Linked DNA regions of Homo sapiens. The protein of the gene in region 1 interacts with the protein of each later gene in a pairwise test. Each region holds a gene or a part of one and is shown on either strand. Other genes may lie near its edges. The genes, in order: PTGES2 and CFAP141.

Region 1 (6,927 bases):
CCAATGGCCACCTTCTCGCCCTGATGGACACGTCTCCACCTGTTTCTCTGTGGAGTGTGAGCATCAGGAAACCCTCTGTGCTCCCAGCGAGGCTGCCGGTGAGTGGAATCTGGCTTTGGGAAGCATCTTGAGTGCAGGACACCAACAGCATCAGAAATTTCTGAACAGCACCTGCCTTCTAGCGTGTAACGAGGTGCCACAGGGAGAGCCCCAGTGCTTGGCACACTGTAGGCATGTAGCAGCTTTTCGTGGAACTAAGGGACAAAGGTGCGACTTGCAAGGACACAGTGGCTTTTCTTCTTTTAGGAGAGCCCAGAGGTGCTCCTTAGGCAGGCCAATAATGGGAGCTGAGTGAGGGGGAGGAGGAAGAGGGTGGCTTTGCTTCCCTGGGGTGGGGGGTTCTATTCCCTAATGGCCATTGGAAATCAGCATTCATACTTGGCAAGAAATAGCTAACCTCTACCTTGGGGAGCATAGGCTTGGAGAGGATGTGCCTACTGCAACCACTGGCTTTCAAAAGACTGGGCTTTCTTTGCTGATGCTGGATCAAACGTACTGAGACATGGCCACAGAAGCTCTGCTGCTTTATGGACATGAAAGGTGGGTGACAAAGCCCTGAAGAGGGGACTAGGGTATCCTAAATTCTGAAATCTGTCCCCAGATGCACAAGCCTCCACGTGGAAAAGGGAGAAGGACTGCTTGCATGGTGTACGGCCTTGGGTGCAGTGACGGATGGCGCACACCTGCCCCAGTGCCCTCCATTGAGGTTTGGAGCAGTGACCTCACCTCTGCACAGACCCACCTGCAGGGTGGGGGGATAGGACGGGGCTATCTCAAGTGTGGGGGGCACCAGGGCAGGGCACCTTGGAAGTATTGCCAGGATAACTAACTGAAGACCAGTGGTTAGGGCAGGGCAGCCCTGCCCCTGTTCTCTGTCCTGTCTCTCAGGAACTGGCGTGAGATGGGGAGATCAGGTGCACAGTGAGGGGCGTAGCTGTGGATTGAACATAGCATGGTCAGGCTTCTGTCTTTTATTATTTATTTATTCATTTATTTATGATATATCATAGTTGTACATACTTTGGGGGTACATGTGATACTTTGATACCTGTATGAAACATGTAATGATCAAATCAAGGAAATTAAGATCTTCATCACCTCAAACATTTATCTTTTTTGTGTGTGGGCGGCAAGCCACCCAGGCACCGAGGCAAGAGACAGAGGACACGAGCTCTTCCAGTATAATAAAATATAAAACAAGAATAGTTATACCAGATATAGATCTTAGATATGATTATATATGACTATCATTAATCATTAGTTTGTAGCAATTACTTTTTATTCCAATATTATGATAATCCTCGCTCTATAATCATAGCCTAGGAAAAACCAGGCCATACAGAGATAGGAGCTGAGGGGACATAGTGAGGTGTGACCAGAAGACAAGAGTGCGAGCCTTCTGTTATGCCCACACAGGGCCACCAGAGGGCTCCTTGGTCTAGCGGTGACGCCAGCATCTGGGAAGACGCCCGTTACCAGGCGGATCATGGTCCAGCAGTAGCAAAAGGTGTCAAGGAACAACACCTGCTACTTAGCAGACCGGGAAAGGGAGGGTGGGGGTCTCCCTTTCCCCGGGGGAGTTTAGAGAAGACTCTGCTCCTCCACCTCTTGTGGAGGGCCTGACATCAGTCAGGCTCGCCCGCAGTTATCTGGAGGCCTGTCTCCCTGTGATGCTGTGCTTCAGTGGTCACGCTCCTAGTCCGCCTTCATGTTCCATCCTGTACACCTGGCTCTGCCTTCCAGATAGCAGTAGTCAATTAGTGAAAATACTAATAGTCCCTGATATGCAGAAATAATGGCGTAAGCTGTCTTTCTCTTTGTCTCCTCTCCCTCTCTGCCTCCGCTGCCAGGCAGGGAAGGGCCCCCTGTCCAGTGGACACGTGACCCACGTGACCTTACCTATCATTGGAGGTGACTGACATTCTTTACCCTGCCCCTTCTGCCTTGTATCCAATAAATAACAGTGCAGCCAGACATTCGGGGCCACTACCGGTCTCCGCGCATTGGTGGTAGTGGTCCCCCGGGCCCAGCTGCCTTTTCTCGTCTCTTTGTCTTGTGTCTTTATTTCTACACTCTCTCGTCGCCGCACACAGGGAGAGACCTACCGACCCTGTGGGGCTGGACCCTACAGCGCCCTGTGTCACCTCGGCAGCTTAAGCACGTGCAACTGGTTGCTCTGTAAGCTGCTCACATTTGGCAAGGCTGCGAGGCCACACCAGCAAAGCCAGGTGGCTGGAGATGCTGACCCAGCAGAGCATCGCGCTCCCCGCCCCGGGCCAGACCCTCCTACTAAGCCCAGCAGGCCAAACACGGACCCGCCCCCCTCAAGTGCCTAGGTGTCCCCGGGGCCTGAACACATCAAGTTACATTTTGATGGAGTTAGAATCCGGAAAATCAAGAGTGTGGAAGATCAGGAGCAATTAATGTAAACAGGAGGAGGATGAAGCTGGGAGGAGCAGGAGCTAGCAAGCAGGAGCTAGCAAGCAGGAGCGTGAGAGTGGCGCTGGGAGAAGGCCTGGATAGGGATAGAGTAGAGCACAGAACATGGGGGTCACCCTCAACCACCCCTAAACACTCTAAGCTCGAGCAGTCCCTCAACTCCTGGTCTGTAAAGTGGCTGAAGGAAGTGGGTGGAGCAAAACCCATATGGGCGAGTGTCCCAGCAGCTGCCTCAGTTTCCCTATCTGTAAAACGGGGCTGGGGACCTGCAGCTCTCACGGGACTGGTTACCCGCTCGCGGGTGCTCGCCCTGCATCCGAGACAGCACCTACAACTCCAAACCCACTCGGGGCGGGTCGAGGTGGGCCCTTCGGTCCCTTCGAAGCCAACATCCCGATTCCCCTTCCCGGGAAGGCACCCCCGGAAACGCCAAGGTCGCTCCAGCAGTCTCCTCGGGTCACCCGCTTCCCCGAAGCCGTCGTCCTCGCCTTCCGCTCTCGTCTTCACCGGCATACTCAGGTCCCCGCTGGGGACTGACACTGCGGGCTCGGTCGCCGCAAGGACTGGAAGGAAGGTGGAAGATGCGGGGCGAAAGCGGAGCGAGAAGAGTGGGACGCGGCGGAGCAGCAGAGCCGGGACTCAGAGCTCCCCCCTCGCCCCGCCCCTCTCCCCGCCCACTCTGCGAGTCCCGCCCCCTCTCGGGCGCCGGGCGGGGCCATCCCGGGGCTGTCCGCGGAGACGCCTATGCGGTGGAGGCTCCGGGCTTCAGCTAGGGCGGGGGAGCCCAGCAGAAGGACCGAGCAGCCTGGCACCCCACTTTGCCATCCTCTCCCTGGAAATCTCGGGGTCGGCGGGCCGGCCGCTTCGCGTGGGCGAAATCAGAGACACGTGGTTTCCAAGGCCCCTTCGGGTTCGGGAAAATTTTATGGTTCGGGTCACAGTAGGAAGCGGACAATGAGGCGGGAGGGCAGAGAGAACCGCAACACCTGGTGCCGGGTCGGGTCGTTTCCGGGGCTTTCAGTGGCCGGAAGTCGCGGCGCCTGTACTGACTCTAGGAAGGGCTGGAGTTGTTTTGAATGGGCGCCCGTAAGAGAGGTGGGCAAGTACGTGTTACAGACGGCCACGCCGCCCTTTAGGCGGTCAAGGTGGGGCGAGGAGACGTTCGCCCCCCTGCAGTCGGCCGGGTCACTACCCAAGAGCCTTTGGAGGCGGAAGCATGGAACGGTCTGCAAACGTTCCCGAGCGGGCCTCTGCGGCTCTGGCGGGCGTTTCGAACTTGGGCGCCGGGCACACGCCCAGTCCCGAGAGCGCTGAGGGTTCCCTTAGCGTCGCCCTCACCCCGGCCAACCCGCGGGGCGCCAGAGTCCTGGCCCTTTAAACGCCGCGCGTGCCTCGGCGTCTTCGTTTCGCGCGCCCGCCCGCGGCGCCGGCGGAGCGAACATGGACCCGGCTGCGCGGGTGGTGCGGGCGCTGTGGCCTGGTGGGTGCGCCTTGGCCTGGAGGCTGGGAGGCCGCCCCCAGCCGCTGCTACCCACGCAGAGCCGGGCTGGCTTCGCGGGGGCGGCGGGCGGCCCGAGCCCCGTGGCTGCAGCTCGTAAGGGGAGCCCGCGGCTGCTGGGAGCTGCGGCGCTGGCCCTGGGGGGAGCCCTGGGGCTGTACCACACGGCGCGGTGGCACCTGCGCGCCCAGGACCTCCACGCAGAGCGCTCAGCCGCGCAGGTAAGGCCTGGCCCGGCCGGGGATGGGGATGCTGATCAGCGCCGAACTCGGGACTCCTGGGAACCCGCAGGGTCAGGAGTTGCCTCTGCCTGCTTGTGACCTTGGGCGAGTGACTTGGTCTGAAGTCTCCGAACCCTCTGTATTCTTTTGTGTAAAATAGGGGCACTCCTGATGCCTACTACCTGGAATTGTTCGAGTTCTCATAAAATCGTTCTTCTACCGTGGTTTTTTTTTTTTTTTTTTTTTTGGTTTGTTTATTTATGTTTTCGAGACAGGGTCTCGCATTATCGCCCAGGCTGGAGTGCGATCGCGGCTCACTGCAGCCTCTGCCTCCCAGGTTGAAGGGATCCTCCTGCCTCAGCCTCCCGAGTAGCTGGGACTATAGGCTCACCCCACTGCGCCCTGCTAATTTTTGTATTTTTTGTAGAGATAGGGTTTCACCATGTCGCCCAGGCTGGTCTCGAACTCCTGGCCTCAAGTGATCCGCCCACCTTGGCCTCTGAAAGTGCTGGGATCACAGGCGTGAGCCACTGCGCCCAGCCTTTACCATGTTTTAAGGAGACTTTTTTTTTTTGAGACGGAGTTTTTTTTTGCTCTGTTGCCCAGGCTGGAGTGCAGTGGCGCGATCTCGGTTCACTGCAACCTCCGCCTCCTGGGTTCAAGCAATTCTCCTGCCTCAGCCTCCCCAGTAGCTGGGATTACAGGCGCCTGCCACCCAGCCCGGCTAATTTTTGTATTTTTACTAGAGACGGGGGTCTCACCATGTTGGCCAAGCTGGTCTCGAACTCCTGACCTCAAATGAGCCACCCGCCTCGGCCTCCCAAAGTGCTGGGATTACAGGTGTGAGCCACGGAGCCCAGCCTCTACCGTGTTTTAAGACTTTTTTGATTAAGAGATGGGAGATCACAGGAAAGGGAAAGCCTTTTTCACTTTCCAAACGTTCATCATCCTCTCTCCCCACTGCCCCCAAATCCTAAGGCTGTGTATTTATTTAGTAGTAGTGGTGGTACCTTTATGGAACTGATGACTTAGACTCCAGGCTGAAACAGGAAGAGGTAGAAAGGTGCCCCCCCCAAGTGGTGACCCCCTAAGTGGTGGCCCAGCTGCCTTGAGACACTTTATACCTACCCCACACCTTGCAACTCTTCATTACTTGACTTCCCACCACCCGCCCACAGATGCTTATTTGCTGGACCAGAGGGAACAGAGGTGGGTAAAAAGGGCATGGAGTACTCTGTGTCTCCCTTCCTGCCTCCACGGTCCAGCTTCCCCTCTGAACACAGGGGGATGGTCTACAGTTGTGGCTTCCCGGCATGAACGTGCAGCAGGCTCCCCTGGGGGCTTTCCTGCGGAGCTTGCCACACGCAGGCCTTGGCTCAGATACCACCCTCCCCCTCGGATATTTGAGATAGACTTTGGCTGGAGGATCACATGAACCCCGGAGTTCAAGGCTGCAGTGAGCTGTGATCAAGCTACTGCACTCCAGCTTGGATGGCAGAGTGAGACCCTGTCTCCAGAGAAAAAAACAAGAAAGAGATTGGAGGTAGACCCCACTGGTGAACATGAGCCTGGGTGGTAGCCCAGCTCTGCCCCCAGAGGTCCCTGGGGTTAGAGGAGTGAGAGTGAACAAGTCAAGTTGAAACAGTTGTTCCATGTCTGTGGGAGTGGGGTGTATACCCTGGGGCTGTCTGGTGTCCCCTTGGGACTGGAGTGAGAAAAGAGGGGTCTGTCCAGTATGGGACAGAGACTAGAAGATTCCTCCTACACAACCTCGCAGCAAAGGGTGGGACTCCTGCTTGGGGACCGTGCTGGCCAGGGGCTTAAACCTGGGCTGCTGTCCAGTGCCTCCCTTTCCCCTACCGCCCCCTTCCATCTCTAGTTCCTCTTCCCGATGTTCTAGCGTCATTTCAGAAGACTCCTCTGGAAAACACCCTTGGGGGCAGGGCCTGGGCCTGGGGGTGCCAGGTCTAGAAGCCTTTTCCGTCTGCTGCCCGCAGCTCTCCCTGTCCAGCCGCCTGCAGCTGACCCTGTACCAGTACAAGACGTGTCCCTTCTGCAGCAAGGTCCGAGCCTTCCTCGACTTCCATGCCCTGCCCTACCAGGTGGTGGAGGTGAACCCTGTGCGCAGGGCTGAGATCAAGTTCTCCTCCTACAGAAAGGTGCCCATCCTGGTGGCCCAGGAAGGAGAAAGCTCGGTGAGCCCCAGGGAACCCCCTGCATCCTTCCTCCTTTCCTGGGTTGTCCTGGAGCGCCCCCTAGCCTGGCCTGGCTCTGCAGCCTGGGAAGGAACTTGTGATCCTTGTGCCTGTAAGGACTATGGGGGAAGTAGCTGCATACGGTAGATGCTCAATAAATGTAGGCTCTCTCCTTCCGTACCAAAACCAAACACCTGCTGGGTCTCAGGGAGGCAGAACACCACAGCTTAACAACATAGATTCTGAAATCAGCGATCTGGGTTTGAGGTGTGATTCACCCACTCACTAGCTGTGTGACTTGGGGCAAGTCACTTAGCCTCTCTGCGCTTGCTTGCTTCATGAGTCAACAAGGGACCATATTCTGGCTTGCAGGGACGGCAGATATGAAATGCCTGGCACAGTGCTTGGGGTCTAGTATGTAGCTTCCAGAACCCACCCTGCCCCTCTACCTGGGAGGCCAAATGGGTGAGTGGGCTGGGGCTTAGACCCCACGGCTTTCCCACACCTTCCTCCC
Region 2 (4,749 bases), on another chromosome or scaffold:
AACCAGAGATCGCACCACTGCACTCCAGCCTGGGCAACAGAGCAGGACTCTGACTCAGAAAAAAAAAAAAGTAAAAACTACAGTCATTCCCAACAAAGTATATATATATATATATATATATATATATATATATATATATATATATATATATATATATATATTTGCCCAGTCAGAGATAACAACTTTTTTTTTTTTTTGAGGCAGAGTCTCTCTAAGACAGAGTCTTACTCCACCACCCAGGCTAGAGTGCAGTGGTGCAATCTCGGCTCACTGCAGCCTCCACCTCCTGGGTTCAAGTGATTCTCGTGCCCCAGCCTCCTGGGGAGCTGGGATTACAGGTGTGTGGCACCACGCTCGGCTAATTTTTGTATTTTTAGTAGAGATGGGGTTTCACCATGTTGGCCAGACTGGTCTTGAACTCCTGGCCTCAAGTGATCTGCCCGCCTCAGCCTCCCGAAGTGCTGGGATTACAGGCATGAGCCATTGCACCCAGAAAGTTTTTACTTTTCACTTAATGTATTTTTTTTTTCCTTGGGACGGAGTCTTGCTCTGTCGCCCAGGCTGGAGTGCAGTGGCACCATCTTGGCTCACTGCAAGCTCTGTCTCCTGGGTTCACGCCATTCTTCTGCCTCAGCCTCCCGAGTAGCTGGGACTACAGGCACCCGCCACTGCGCCCAGCTAATTTTTTTATATTTTTAGTAGAGACGGGGTTTCACCGTGTTAGTGAGGATGGTCTCGATCTCCTGACCTCGTGATCTGCCCGCCTGGGCCTCCCAAAGTGCTGGGATTACAGGCATGAGTCACCGCGGCCGGCCTCACTTAATGTATTTCTGTGTAGATTCAATTTTTTCAACATGTGGAAAATGTACTTTTGATTTTTTAAAAATGCCAACAGTAGATATATGTACATGCATGATGTATATTTATATTCTTTCTATATATTAAAAAACTTAAAACTGGCCTGGCATGGTGGCTCACTCCTGTAATCCCAGCACTTTGGGAGGCTGAGGCAGGCTGATCACTTGAGGTCTGGAGTTCGAGACCAGCCTGGCCAACATGGCAAAACCCCACCTCTACTAAAAATTTAAAAATTAGCAGCCAGGCATGGTGGCTTACGCCTGTAATCCCAGCACTTTGGGAGACTGAGACAGGTGGATTACATGAGGTCAGGAGTTCAAGACCAGCCTGGCCAACATGGTGAAACCTCTGTCTCTACTAAAAATATGAAAATTAGCTGGGCGTGGTGGCATGCACCAATAATCCCAGCTACTCAGGAGTCTGAGGCAGGAGAATTGCTTGAGCCCAGGAGACAGAGGCTGTAATGAACCCAGATTGCGCCACTGCACTCCAGCCTGGCTGACACAGTGAGACTCTGTCTCCAAAAAAAAAAAAAAAATTACCTGGGCGTGGTGGTGGGCGCCTGTAATCCCAGCTACTCAGGAGGATGAGGCATGAGAATTGCTTGAACCTGGGAGGCAGAGGTTGCAGTGAGCCAAGATCGGGCCATTGCACTCTGGCCTGGGCGACTGAGCGAGACTATTTCTCAAAAAAAAAAATTAAAACTTCAATGAAGATTCCAGTCTAGCCAGGGCTGAGAATCACTAGTATGAGGGAAGGGATATTAACTTTAGAGAAATTGGATTTGGGGCCAGGCGCGGTGGCTCATACCTGTAATCCCAGCACTTTGGGATGCTGAGTCAGGCGGATCACCTGAGGTCAGGAGTTCGACACCAGCGTGGCCAACACGGTGAAACCTCGTCTCTACTAAAAATACAAAAATTAGCCAGGTGTGGTGGCACATGCCTGTAGTCCCAGCGACTCAGGAGGCTGAGGCAGGAGGATCACTTGAACCCTGGAGGCAGAGATTGCAGTGAGCCAAGATTGCCTCACTGCACTCCAGCCTGGGTGACAGAGTGAGACTCTGTCTAAAAAAAAAAAAAAAAGCTGGATTTGAGTCCCAGGTCTGCCATTAAGTGACCTTGGGCATCTCACAACTTTTAGTTTCCTTACCTGTATCATGTAAAAATTAATGCCTATGGGCCAGGCGCGGTGGCGCATGCCTGTAATCCCAGCTACTCAAGAGGCTGAGGCAGGAGAATCACTTGAACCCGGGAAGTGGAGGTTGCAGTGAGCCGAGATCACACCATTGCACTCTAGCCTGGGCAACAAGAGCAAAACTCTGTCTCAAAATAAATAAATAAATAAATAAAATAACACCTATGCCACATAGTTACTGTAATGATTAAATGATATTATGTACTTAATACATACTAGGTTCTAAATTACCCTTTTAAGGATTTTACAGTCTTCTAACAGTGGGGCAGAGGTTCCAGGTGAAGAAACAGTCTTGGGCCAGGCGTGGTGGCTCACACCTATAATCCCAGCACTCTGGGAAGCCGAGGCAGGTGGATCACCTGAGGTCAGGAGTTCGAGACCAGCCTGACCAATATGGTGAAACCCTATCTCTACTAAAAATACAAAAAATTAGCTGGGCATGGTGCCAGGCACCTGTAATCCCAGCTACTTGGGAAGCTAAGGCAGGAGAATCACTTGAACCTGGGAGGCAGAGGTTGCAGTGAGCCAAGATTGCACCACTGTACACCAGCCTGGGCAACAAGAGTGAAACTCTGTCTCAAAAAAAAAGAAAAGAAAAAGAAAAAAGAAACAGCCTCACTCTATGGGTTTTTTGTCTCTACTCCTAACTCTAACCCACCCATTCAACCCCCACCTCTGTACCTGGAGCAGGTGGCGAAATTCACATACTCACTGTCTGTGGCAAATGGCATTGGGCCAGAGAAGAAACCCGTATGCCACCCTAAGGATGCAGGACACCATGGTACAGGAATTGGCACTGGCCAAAAAGCAACTACTAATGGTGAGTTCTAGCAGGGCAACCTGAAGTCTCATTCACTACTGCTGTGTGCCTTTGCCCATTGAGTTTTCCAAGCTCTTAGTGTGTGTCATTGCACATTTATCTTGTTTGCCTCTAGGTTTTCAGCATTACACCAGAGCAACACAACTCTAACTCCATTGCCAAAACTCTTTTTCATTAAGTGATTCTTTGCATCCACCTTACAGGCGGCAGGCACATGTTAAAGTCCCAAAGTATACTCTAGTTCCTGCTCCTTTCATCTTGGTGAGACTCAAAACTGCCTCTTAGATCGGGTGTGGTGGCTCAGGCCTGTAATCCCAGCACTTTGGGGGGCCAAGACGGGCAGATCGCTTGAGCCCAGGAGTTCAAGACCAGCTTGACCAACATGCCAAAACCACCTCTCTACTAAAAACACAAAAATTGGCCGGGCATGGTGGCACTTGCCTATAATCCCAGCTACTTGGGAGGCCGAGGCACGAGAATCACTTGAAACGAGGGCAGAGGTTGCAGTGAGCTGAAATTGTGCCACTGCACTCCAGCCTGGGCTACAACGTAAGACTTGGTCTCAAAAAAACAAAAAACAAAAAAAACTGCCTCTTAGTGCGTATCACTTGCCTCTCGGTACCTCTCTCTCTCCCGGGGTCCCCACTTGGTGCCATGTAACCATCTTTGTATCCCAGTTACTTAGTAGAGTTCCTGTTTCATGGTCTGTTCTCAGCAAATATTTGCTGAACATAGGGCTTTGCCTGTGGAGAAAAAAATTGGATAGGCTTCCCTCTGCTGGTTCAGCCTCTCTGCTACCACCCAGCTTTATGTCACAGCTAAGTCCAGCTCCAAGAGAACACAAATAATGGGAAAACAACTAGGAAGAAAGAATAAGAAAGGGTGGTAAACAGAGGCAAACAACACACTCTATTCTGCCCTCTCCACCAGGTCCGTCAAGCTGCCCTGCACCAGCTGTTTGAAAAGGAGCATCAGCAGTACCAGCAGGAACTAAATCAGATGGGCAAAGCTTTTTATGTAGAGAGATTCTGATGGCATCCAAAACACTGCTCTTCCATTCTCAACATGCCTGCTAACCTAGCCTTCTAGAACCTCTACCACCTTGAACCTCCTTCCCAAAACATACCTGGATCTTGCTATCTGTCAGGGACTTAAGACAGCACTTCCACTCTCACTTCTCCACTCTCTCGTTAATCCTTTGCCGCTATTTGGGAAACAATCTATGAAACAACAGTAACAACAAGAGTGACGCCTTGTGGTCATAGTGGGATTTACTATGTTGATGTAAGGGGGCAGGGGTGGGGAGGGGTGGACAATGAGAGTTGAGAATCCTGATTTGGTATAACAAATAAATTTACTTCCTAAAGGCTCAAACTTAGACCACTGGGCTCATTCTTTCATGTCTAAATCTTGATTTGTTTCAAAAGTGCTTATTTTTCAGCTACTGTAATCTTAACCTCCTGGATTTCACTTGCCATCTCTCAGATATCACTTTCACTTATCTTTTATTTATATTTGGACAAATTGTTCTGAATGTGGCTATTAATCTACAGACACCGTAGTGCTTGAGTGAGGAGGCCTGCATTTTGGGTTTTGAGTCAGCTAGTTATTGTGAAACTTTGGACAAGTCTCTTTCCACTGGGCCTGAATTCCCACCTATGCCAAGAGAGAGGATTCCAAACTTAAATGTCTCCAGGGGTCAGGCAGGTAATGTTACAGTTGTAAGGAAATAAGGAGTGGTGGGATTTGTAGGGGGCTGGAAAGAGCAGTCAAAATAAAGGCACTCAAAATTCTGAAAAATACTGAAAAGTACTGATTGACCATGTGCATCATATGAAGGCCATAGACAACTTTACTTACAAGGGTTCACTTTA

The links.
Region 2: the proteins of PTGES2 (region 1) and CFAP141 interact in binary tests that used the Homo sapiens proteins (3 or more experiments, as listed by UniProt).

The regions. Positions count from the first base shown.
Region 1 is NC_000009.12:128,124,730-128,131,656, reverse strand, and holds the start of PTGES2 (prostaglandin E synthase 2), read left to right. Parts: upstream 1-3,927; 5' UTR 3,928-3,939; coding exon 3,940-4,218; intron 4,219-6,215; coding exon 6,216-6,413; intron 6,414-6,785; exon of another isoform or gene 6,786-6,878; intron 6,879-6,927. UniProt on the Homo sapiens protein: Isomerase that catalyzes the conversion of PGH2 into the more stable prostaglandin E2 (PGE2) (in vitro). The biological function and the GSH-dependent property of PTGES2 is still under debate.
Region 2 is NC_000001.11:154,198,585-154,203,333, reverse strand, and holds the end of CFAP141 (cilia- and flagella-associated protein 141), read left to right. Parts: intron 1-2,745; coding exon 2,746-2,875; intron 2,876-3,805; coding exon 3,806-3,907; 3' UTR 3,908-4,249; downstream 4,250-4,749. UniProt on the Homo sapiens protein: Microtubule inner protein (MIP) part of the dynein-decorated doublet microtubules (DMTs) in cilia axoneme, which is required for motile cilia beating.